Homo sapiens: one gene and its partners. The protein of the gene in region 3 purifies or fractionates together with the protein of the main gene of each other region. This does not show direct contact. Each region holds a gene or a part of one and is shown on either strand. Other genes may lie near its edges.

What was found.
Region 1: the proteins of CTPS2 (region 3) and MTMR2 fractionate together in Homo sapiens (co-fractionation; one large-scale study listed by BioGRID). This does not show direct contact.
Region 2: the proteins of CTPS2 (region 3) and LRSAM1 fractionate together in Homo sapiens (co-fractionation; one large-scale study listed by BioGRID). This does not show direct contact.

Annotation. Positions count from the first base shown.
Region 1 is NC_000011.10:95,861,456-95,865,188, forward strand, and holds part of MTMR2 (phosphatidylinositol-3,5-bisphosphate 3-phosphatase MTMR2), read right to left. Parts: intron 912-3,733; coding exon 817-911; intron 648-816; coding exon 537-647; intron 1-536. UniProt on the Homo sapiens protein: Lipid phosphatase that specifically dephosphorylates the D-3 position of phosphatidylinositol 3-phosphate and phosphatidylinositol 3,5-bisphosphate, generating phosphatidylinositol and phosphatidylinositol 5-phosphate.
Region 2 is NC_000009.12:127,475,510-127,479,009, reverse strand, and holds part of LRSAM1 (E3 ubiquitin-protein ligase LRSAM1), read right to left. Parts: intron 77-3,500; coding exon 47-76; intron 1-46.
Region 3 is NC_000023.11:16,706,108-16,709,840, reverse strand, and holds part of CTPS2 (CTP synthase 2), read left to right. Parts: exon of another isoform or gene 1-30; coding exon of another isoform or gene 31-117; intron 118-1,322; exon of another isoform or gene 1,323-1,422; intron 1,423-2,343; exon of another isoform or gene 2,344-2,432; intron 2,433-3,733. UniProt on the Homo sapiens protein: Catalyzes the ATP-dependent amination of UTP to CTP with either L-glutamine or ammonia as the source of nitrogen. Constitutes the rate-limiting enzyme in the synthesis of cytosine nucleotides.

The DNA of each region.
Region 1 (3,733 bases), on a different chromosome or scaffold from region 3:
CTCTGTTGCCCAAGCTGGAGTGCAGTGGCACTATCTTGGCTCACTGCAACATCCGCCTCCCAGGTTCAAGCAATTCTCCTGCCTCAGCCTCCCCAATAGCTGAGATTACAGGTGCCCGCCACCACGCCTGGTTAATTTTTGTATTTTTAGTAGAGATGCGTTTTCATCATGTTGGCCAGACTGATCTCGAACTCTTGACCTGATGTGATCCACCTGCCTCAGTCTCTGAAAGTGTTGGGATTATAGGCGTGAGCCACCATGTCCGGCCAAGATGATCATTATTAAAAAATAAGTTATGAATTTGTGAATATATCAAAATATGTAGACTGAACTGGGCCCAAAAGAATTAAGTCTAATTCATGAATCACCTTTTCTATTACTGCTAAATTTTGTTTTCTTCTATCAATGTCATACTAAAATAACATTTCTAATTGGAAATCCATTTTATATTTTAGAAACCAATTTCAAAACAGAGGTTCTATTTAATACAAAGCTTTTCAAACCAAAGAAAATCACATACATATTATAACATTTACCTTACACACAGTTTCTAGTCCATAAGAATTTTCACCTCGACTAGAAGCACCACCAATTTTTTCTACTCTATTTATCACACCAAGGGAAGCATCTAAAACAAATGGGGGATCCTAAAGAAGGAAAGAAAAAATAATTAAAACTGAGCAATTAATACTGTCCAATTATAGAGCTGATCAAAATCTTAATCAGAAATGCTTTAATTAGAAATGATCAGAAATGAACAAAACTAGCTACAAACAACACACTCATGTACATACAAAAATCTAATCTGACTCTTACCCGTTCCATGCTTTTGAAATATAACCTATAATTCGTGACAGTCAGAGTTCCTCGTACAGCGCCAGTGAATGGACATATATAAGTTACATCTTTGGCTGAAAAAGCAAGAAGTCCACAGTTTACTATACATTATGTGCTATTAAAACCTGCTATCTCATCTTATAAAATTGTTATGATTCCTAGACTAATTTATGCTGAAAAATAACAGAACCAGTAATTTCCAGAGACCTCAGAATCCTACAACCCAAGCTTCCATCCTTGCACTAATCTGGGGAAGAAACACAGAATTAAATGGGATAGGCTGAAAAGGTGGAGGGACTTCTCATCCCATGAGACAGAATGGAAGTAAACAAAGGGGCTACTATCCTGGCTAGATAAAACAGGTGTGGGTAGCTGCAGCAGAGACGGGTGAAAGAATACTGGTAATGGTGGTATCAACAATAAGCATGTCAAGGCACAGTCGCCATCATCTCATTGCAGTTTCTATGTAACCTCACCAATTTCCTGTCCAGTTTGTCAACATTCTTCTAAAAATGCAATGTCCAAAACATATGTTATTCCACAAACTCCTGATCTGATTAATACTTATGGGGAAAATTTTACAGGTGAAATGACACACATTTAAAATATAATTTCTTAGAAAAATAACAGTATAAGAAGAGGATATTGTACTGCTGACCAACCAATGCCAGACTTTGTAAAGAAATAATCACAAGTAATGTTTTATCAAATAAACAATGGATCTACATGGCATTATGTTTTGTAAAATATGCATTAACTGATTATGCAGGATAACTTAGGAATCAGTATCTCAAAATATTATTTAAAATGCCACAGTTCATAATTTCCAATACATGGTTTTTATATCTTAAAATATTCATAAATTCCTAGTATGTCATTATTACACCAAATCAGCAGATAAAGGAGTATCTTCATCATTCCAAGGAAGTAAGGGACAATTCTGTGGAGCAACAACTTTCTAAGACCCTTTCAACGGGCTTCTGGGAAAACTTGGGGCCATGAAATATATTTAATAAGGTATTACAACCTCCTGACTTTGCTTCTCATTCAACACTTCGAAGGACTGGCTGCTTTGTATGGAATTTGAAATGAGACTGATCTTTTCACAATCATTTCTAACCTTCAAAATAGTTCCCTTAGGAACATTTTAAGTATAAACTACTTTTTTAAATCGTTTCGAATGCATATTTCATTTAGAGGGAAGCTTTTAAAATTAAATGAACCCATCATTATACAAAAATACACAAACTTGCTTTGCACAAATAATATTTTTCCCTTATGAATTTTTACCTCAACTAGAAAAGCTTTATTCAAGGTTACTAAAACATTTCTGGATTCCTTCCACAGTCAATTTTCTTACTCATGTAAGAAAACTCAGCCTTATTATCCTATATCCCACCACAGGAATGTCATTCTCAGGCCAGTGCTTTTCTGTTACATCTTCCCCTTTATTCTAAAATCATGAGATAATATACATATAAAGATGCTTCTAAAGTTCTAAGTACAATACAAAAATTCAAGGGTTTATACCTATGTTACTATTATCATCATTAGTCTTTGCTTTGTTCTGTACCCTCTATCATTCCTCAAGAGATCATGACAATGGAGAAAAGAAGATAAATACAAGAAATTCTTAGACACTGACTGGATGTTAAGAGTCCAGAAAAGAAAAAAAGAGCAGTCTAGTACGACAACCAGATTTCTGACTTGAGTAAATGGACAGCTGGTATTGATGTCAACTGAGAGAGAGAATGCAAGAAAAAGAGTAAGTTTGGAGTTAAACGTGATGATTTCCATTTTGGAGATGTTGGGTATAAGGTTCCTATGGGATATTCAAGGATGTGTGTTTAAGATAGAGGCATTTGTTTACTTACATTAGGACAGGGGTTCACACTGGAGATAACAAATTTTGGAGTCATCAGCCAATATATGGCAAGTGATGTTACAAATTTAGATATGGTCAACCGAAAAGAGTATACAGGAGGGAAAAGGGAAATGGGTCAAGGATGAAGTCCTAGGGCGTGTTGCTATTAAAGGAAGAAGAGCCAACAAATGAGACTGAGTGGTAACTTGAAGTTCTTTAATAAAGCCATATTTCATAATGGGAGCTGCAATTACGGCATTAAGTTCAGAATAAGAAAAAGAAATTGTCACAATGCTAGATATAACCTTATTAGCTAGGTTATCTTCCTATGCCTTAGTTTCCTTCCTCACCTATAAAATGGGGTTGATGTTATTCTCAAGAATATACTCTCTGAGAATGACTGAGATAGTAAGCACTCAATAATAATAACTACTATCATTATATAATAGCCAATTCTGAAAAAATGTAAGTAGGTAGTTCAGATCAAGAGCTTGGTGTATATATAAGGCTAACTGGGGAAAAGAAAAAGACTGAGAGGTTATTCAATCAAGAGCCAAGAGCAAGAAAAGACAAATAGCATGCTAAGGACTAGGAAGCTAAATTTAGTAAATAATAATCCATTTAGAATACAGGTCCTGCCTTTGGCTTGTTTTTACACATAGAAATGACACCTAGCCAAGTAAAATTCAGCATTTTTAAAATCCTTTTTAAAAATTATGATTGGTAACAAAATGAAACATGGTAGTTATATTAACTAAGAAATCATTTACTTCATTCTTCTAACATATTACTTTATTTCTCAGAGTTTATGAGTAGATATCTGTAGATTATCACACAGATGAAACAAAACAAAAGCATGAGGAAAAAAAACACAGCTTGTAAGCTCATTTTCAGTTTCCAGTCCATATTATAAGTATTAGGCTGGGCAGAGAAGGGCATCTACATACAAACAGATGCAATGGAGATGATGTATTTCATCCAAAAATTAACCTGACTTTATTCAGAGAAGAAAGACATGAAGGAAGCAAACAG
Region 2 (3,500 bases), on a different chromosome or scaffold from region 3:
TCTTTAATGAGAAAAGAGTGACAGAAGGGTAAAGGCATTTTCTTACCTTCCTCTTCTCATAGTCTGAGAACCTGTTCTGGGAGGAAAAAAAGACAGTGGTCAAGAGAGGGTGGCAGCAGTGGTTCTCCCTGGCATGGGCACCAGGAACCCCCGGGTGGCCTGATGTTATACAAACTCTGGCCCACCCCAGACCACTGCCTCAGAATGGTGGGGTCGGGGGATGAGGGGATCCGTATTGATCAAGGGCACCAGGTGGTTCCAGTGGACACCTGATGAGAACCCCTGGGCTGTCACTGTGTGCATGGCACTGTAGGAGGGGCTCTTCAAGACAGTTCTGGGATGCAGCCCTGAGCAGGGATGGTGGTCTGAAGAGCAGAGCAGGAAATGGGATATCTGATGCCCATGGATGTCTGCGTAACACACCTACAGCACCCGGTTCCAGTCCACCAAAATACTCACAGTGCACAAAGGTGTGGGTACAACTTCCTGCAGAATTATTCAAAAGAGCAAAAACACTGGAAATAACTCATACATCTATCAACATCTGTCCGTAAGTCATGGTGCATCCATACAGTGGACTATTACACAACCGCCAATGGGGCGAATGTGTGAGATCCCTCACCTGTGTGTAGCATGATTCTACTTTTGCAAAAACATCATCAAGAAAACTCAACTCTGAGCATATGTGTGAAGGTATTGAGTCAAAGGTCAAGAAGGACAGTCATTAATCAGTTAATGATGACTACCTCCAGGCAACGGGAGTGCAGGGTGGAAGGGTTGACATTCACTTGGTTTGTAATTGTCTGTATTGTTTAAATTTATAACAAGGAGCAGGTATTAAACATCAATAATGTAATGTAATTATTGGTGTTTAATTAATTAATTTATTATTGATGTAATTAAACAGCAATACACATATACACAAGAGTTAGGTTCTTCTTTTTTTTTTTTTTTTTTGAGACGGAGTTTTGCTCTTGTTGCCCAGGCTGGAGTGCAATAATGGCACAATCTTGGCTCACTGCAACCTCCACCTCCTGGGTTCAAGCAATTCTCCTGCCTCAGCCTCCTGAGTAGCTGGGATTACAGGCACCCACCACCACACCCGGCTGATTTTCTGTATTTTTAATAGAGACAGGGTTTCACCATATTGGCCAAGCTGGTCTCGAACTCCTGACCTCAGGTGATCCATTTGCCTCGGCCTCCCAAAGTGCTGGGATTATAGGCATGAGCCACTGCGCCCGGCCCACACAAGTTTTTTCTTTGTGATGGAGTCTCACTCTTGCCCACGCTGGAGTGCAGTGGCACAATCTCAGCTCACTGCAGCCGCGACCTCCTGGGCTCTAGTGATCCTCCCACCTCAGCCTCCTAAGTTGCTGAGACTGCAGGCACGCACCACCATGCCTGGCTAATTTTTTGTATTTTTGGTAGAGACAAGGTCTTGCTATGTTACCCAGGATGGTCTCAAACTCCTGAGCTCAAGCATCCACCCGACTCGGCCTCCCAAAGTGCTGGGATTATAGGCGTGAGCCACTGCGCCTGGCACACAGGTATTTTTTGAATGGTCCTTCTATTTAGTTATCCTGTTTTGAGAACAGGATCAGTCTCTGAATTATAAAAGCAGCAACCTATAAATAGGATTTTGCCTATACTAATGGTAGGAATATAATTTTAAAATTAATCTTCAATTATACAGATAACATCTCAATATATTCTCCTTGTAAAAGTTTGAAACATGGTATAAAAAACTAAAGCATCTACTGACCACTCCAGCCTAACCCTGGTTCCCCTCCCACCCCACACCTCCTGTCAGGTGTAACTGTCATTATCAGGCCCAAGGCATGCATCTGTACATATATAATTTGTGCCTTTGGGAAAGAAATATATTTGTATTTGTGTGCATATATAAACATTTTTTTAATCAAGTATAATCTATTTACTCTAATTCACCCAATGTTAGTGAACAATTCTATGAATCTTTATATATGCATAGAGTTCTGTAACCTCTAAACACAATTAAGATAGAAAACAATTCTGGCTGGGCGCGGTGGCTCATGCCTGTAATCCCAGCACTTTGGGAGGCTGAGACAAGTGGATCACTTGAGTTCAGGAGTTCGAGACCAGACTGGCCAGCATGGTGAAACCCCGTCTCTACTAACAAAATGCAAAACTTAGCCAGGCGTGGTGGCAGGTGCCTGTAATCCCAGCTACTCGGGAGGCTAAGGCAGGAGAATTGCTTGAACCTGAGAGGCAGAGGTTGCAGTGAGCTGAGATCATGCCACTGCACTCCAGCCTAGTGTGACAGAGTGAGACTCTGTCTCAAAAAGAAAAAAGAAAACAATTCCATCACCCTCGAAAATTCGCTCATGCCACTTCATCATCAAATCCTCTTCCCACTCCAGCCACTGGCAACTACCTGTCTGTTTCCTTTTTTTGTTTTGAGTTTTCTTTTTCTTTCTTTTTTGAGATAGGGTCTAGTTCTGTTACTCAGGATGGGGTGCAGTGGTGTAATCTTAGCTCACTGCAAACTCCAACCTCCTGGGCTTAAGCCATCCTCCCACCTTAGCCTCCCTCGTAGCTGGGACCACAGGCACGTGCCACTATGCCTGGCTAATTTTTTTGTATTTTTTGTAGAGACAGGGTCTCGCCACATTGCCCAGGCTGGTGTTGATTGAGTTTTCTTTTTAAACATAAGAATGGAAATAGACTAGCCCATCCTGTTCTGCAATCTGCCCTTTTCACTAATCCATGTGTCCCAGCGAGCCGAGGCTCAAATGCTCCATCTCATGGTGTGCACATGACCCAGGGGCAGTGCCTTCTCACTGACAAACATTTGGGGGGCATCCAATACTACAAATAAGGCTGCAATAAACACTCCTGCAAATGTCTCCTCATGCAAGCATTTATCTTGGGTATACATTGAGAAGCGGAACTTCTGGATCACGGGCTGTGCCCATGAAAATTTTTGACATCTGGCGGGTGTGGTGGCTCACACCTGTAATCCCAGCACTTTGGGAGGCCGAGGTGGGCAGATCACTTGAGGTCAGGAGTTCGTGACCAGCCTGGCCAACATGGTGAAACCCCGTCTCTACTAAAAATACAAAATTAGCCGGGCATGGTGGCGCATCCCTGTAATCCCAGCTACTCGGGAGGCTGAGGCAGGAGAATCACTTGAACCCGGGAGATGGAGGTTGCAGTGAGCCAAGATTGCACCACTGCACTCCAGCCTGGGCAACAGAGTGAGACTCCATCTCAAAAAAAAATAAAAAAATAATAAAATCTTTTTTGACACCTACTGTCAAATTATCCTCCAAAGTTGTGATACCAATTTTCACTCCCAAGAGCAGTTTATGAGGACACCTGTTTTCCCATACTCTGGCCAACAGAAATTGTCATGTCAAAATGTGTGCCAATCTTGAGGAAGGAAATGGTATTTCAATGTTGTTTTAACTTAACATGCCTCTCCTCTGATTACCAGCAAAGTTGGCATTTTTAAATGTTTG
Region 3 (3,733 bases):
AGTCTCACTCTGTCACCAGGGTAGAGTGCAATGGCACGATCTTGGCTCATTGCAACCTTCACCTCCTGGGTTCAAGTGATTCTCCTGCCTCAGCCTCCCGAGTACCTGAGACTACAGGTGGGTGCCACCACGCCTGGCTAATTTTTGTATTTTTAGTAGAGACAAGGTTTAACCATGTTGGCCAGGATGGTCTTGATTTCTTGACCTTGTGATCCGCCCGCCTTGGCCTCCCAAAGTGTTGGGATTACAGGCGTGAGCCATTGCACCCGGCCATAAGATGGAAATCTTAGTGGTGACAAATAAAATTTAGATCTTAGTTTAAAAAAACATAGTCAATAATATATTCAATTTTATAGTCTGCTCTCTTTTTCAGGTAACATAAGCATTTTCTTTCTTCCTTTTTTTTTTTTTTTGAGACACGGTTTTACTTTGTTGCCCAGGTTGGAGGGCACTGGCACAATCTTGGCTCACTGCAACCTCCACCTCCCAGGTTCAAGCAATTCTCGTGCCTCAGCCTCCTGAGTAGCCGGGATTACAGGTGCACGCCACCACACCTGGCTGATTTTTTGTATTTTAGTAGAGATGGGGTTTCCCCATGTTGCCCAGGCTGGTCTCGAACTCCTGAGCTCAGGCAATCCGCCCGTCTTGGCCTCCCAAAGTGCTGGGATTACAGGCGTGAGCCACCGTGCCCGGCCACATAAGCATTTTCTTTTTTTTTAACTTTTTTTTTTGAGACGAAGTCTCGCTCTTGTCCCCCAGGCTGGAGTGCAATGGTGCTATCTGGGTTCACTACAACCTCTGCCTCCCGGGTTCAAGCGATTCTCCTGCCTCAGCCTCCCAAGTAGCTGGGATTACAGGCGCCTGCCACCACGCCTGGCTAATTTTTGTATTTTTAGTAGAGACAGGGTTTCACCATGTTGGCCAGGCTGGTCTCGAACTCCTGACCTCAGGTGATCCGCCTGCCTCAGCCTCCCAAAGAAGCATTTTCTTATACAAAAATTTATTAGGCATAATGTGACTTGTACGAATGTATGCCAGTTTTCTTCACCATACCTCTACGGCATTTTTCCATTTCGGTAACTTTTACAAAGAGAGTCATTTGAACAGTATAACAGTGCCAGAATAAGGTATAATTAAAGCACAGTTTATTTGCCCCTTAATCCTGCAGGAAAGGTGAAGTCCAGTGGAACATAGACCTTGTCTTTTTGTTTATCTCCATATTCCTAGGACTTGGAAATATGTCAAGCATGTAATAGATGTTCAAATAAACATTATATATGTAATATATGTATATATATAATTTATTTATTTATTTATTTCAGACGGAGTCTCACTCTGTTGTCCAGACTGGAGTGCAATGGTGTGATCTTGGCTCTGGGTTTGGATTGACAATGTTTTAAGCTATAAACATAGGTCAGATAGGTGGGTGCCCTGGTGACTAGTGAAGATGTGCGATGGCATTGAATGTGATCAACTGTGTTGTGTAGAGAAAGGTAGGCCCAGGGACTTAGGGAGGCCATCTGGGATGGAACATGTATATTTTGAATAGCTTCAGTTTACTCAGCCTGACCATGGTCAGCTAGTTCAAATGGAATTCACAGCTCTGACGTGTGATAACTTTAGTTAAGATAGTTTGTTTTGAAAGGTAAGCAGAGGAAACCACAAAATCAGAATGGGCATTCCTTTGAGGAGGACAAATAAGAAGTGGGTAACTGAAATTGTTCCTACCCGAATGCATTTGTGCTGAATTTCCAAGTATGTAAAAAAATTGTGAAATTACAAATGAAAGTGAAATTTATAGTTATTACCTTTTGTTAGTTACTGTCTCTCTCTCTCTCTCTTTTTATTTTTTCTTTTTTGGTACCGAGTCTCACCCTATTGTCCAGGCTGGAATGCAGTGGTGTGATCTCAGCTCACTGCAACCTCCGCCTCCCGGCTTCAAGTGATTCTCCTGCCTCAGCCTCCCATGCAGCTCATGTAGCTGGGACCACAGGCACACGCCACCACGCCCGGCTACTTTTTATATTTTTAGTAGAGACATTGTTTCGCCACGCTGACCAGGATGGTCTTGAACTCCTGACCTCAGGTGATCCGCCCGCCTTGGCCTCCCAAAGTGCTGAGATTACAGGCATGAGCCACCGCACCTGGTCTCTCTTTTTATTTTTGAGACAGGATCTTGCTTTGTCACCCAGGCTGGAGTGCAGTGGCACAATCACTTGGCTAACTGCAGCCTTGACCTCCTGGGCTCAAGCAATCCTCCTGCCTCAGCCTCCCCAGTAGCTGGGACTACAGGTGTGTGCCACCACACCTGGCTAATGTTTTATTTTTCTTTTGTAGAGAGGGAGTCTCACTATGTTGACCAGGTTGGTGTCGAACTTCTGACCTCAAGAGATCCTCCCACCTCAGCCTTCCAAAGTGTTGGGATTACAGATGTGAGCCACCATGCCTGGCATTATTTTTCTTTTTCTGTAACTGTAATTTTATATTGTGGTCTTACTCAGTTGCCCATTTGCCTGCCATGAGTACACAAATAATACTGTTTATGGTCTACTTTCACATACATGGTGAAATTACAAGAGCAGAAGGCCCCTGTACACACTCAAGGGAAAAACAATAGTACTCAAAGTAAAGAAAATCAAGTTATTGGGCTTCCTATAAAACAAAAGGGTTTGAATCAGAAAGCAGCAGAAAAGTCAAATAAATTTTCCTTATGACTGTCAACTTAAAAATCACAAGATCTATAAATTTAGAAAGGAGACTTTCTTTTTTAAAACATTTTCTTTTCTTTTTTTTTTTTTGAGACAGAGTCTCACTCTGTTGCCCAGGCTGGAGTGCAGTGGCGTGATCTCAGCTCACTGCAACCTCCGCCTCCCAGGTTCAAGTGATTCTCCTGCCTCAGCCTCCCGAGTAGCTGGGATTACAGGCGCATACTACCATGCTCGGCTAATTTTTGTTTGTTTGTTTGTTTGTTTTTTTTTTGAGACAGAGTTTCGCTCTTGTCACCCAGACTGGAGTGCAATGGTGCGATCTCAGCTCACTGCAACCTCCTCCACCCAGGTTCAAGCAATTATCCTGCCTGAGCCTCCTGAGTACCTGGGATTACAAGTGCCCACAACCACGCCCGGCTAATTTTTGTATTTTTAGTAGAGATGGGATTTCACCATGTTCGCCAGGCTGGTCTTAAACTGCTGACCTCAGGTGATCCACCCGCCTTGGCCTCCCAAAGTGCTGGGATTACAGGTGTGAGCCACTATGCCCAGCCTAACTTTTGTATTTTTTAGTAGAGACAGGGTTTCATCATGTTGGCCAGGCTGGTCTCAAACTCCTGACCTCAGGTGTTCCGCCTGCCTCAGCCTTCCAAAGTGCTGGGATTACAGGCATGAGCCATTGCACCTGGCCAAAATTTTTCTTACCTTTCGAGTCGGAGTCTCACTCTGTTGCCCAGACCGGAGTGCAGTGGCACGATCTGGGCTCACTGCAACCTCTGCCTCCCAGGTTCAAGTGATTCTCGTGCTTCAGCCCCGCAAGTAGCTGGGATTACAGGTGCCTGCCACCACACCTGGCTAATTTTTTATTTTTAGTAGAGACAGGGTTTCACCATGTTGGCCAGGCTGGTCTCGAACTCCTGATCTTAAGTGATCTGCCTGCATTGGCTGCCCAAAGTGCTGGGATTATAGGCGTGAGCCACTGTGCCTGGTGACTTTATTTCTTTTCTTTTCTTTCTTTCTTTTTT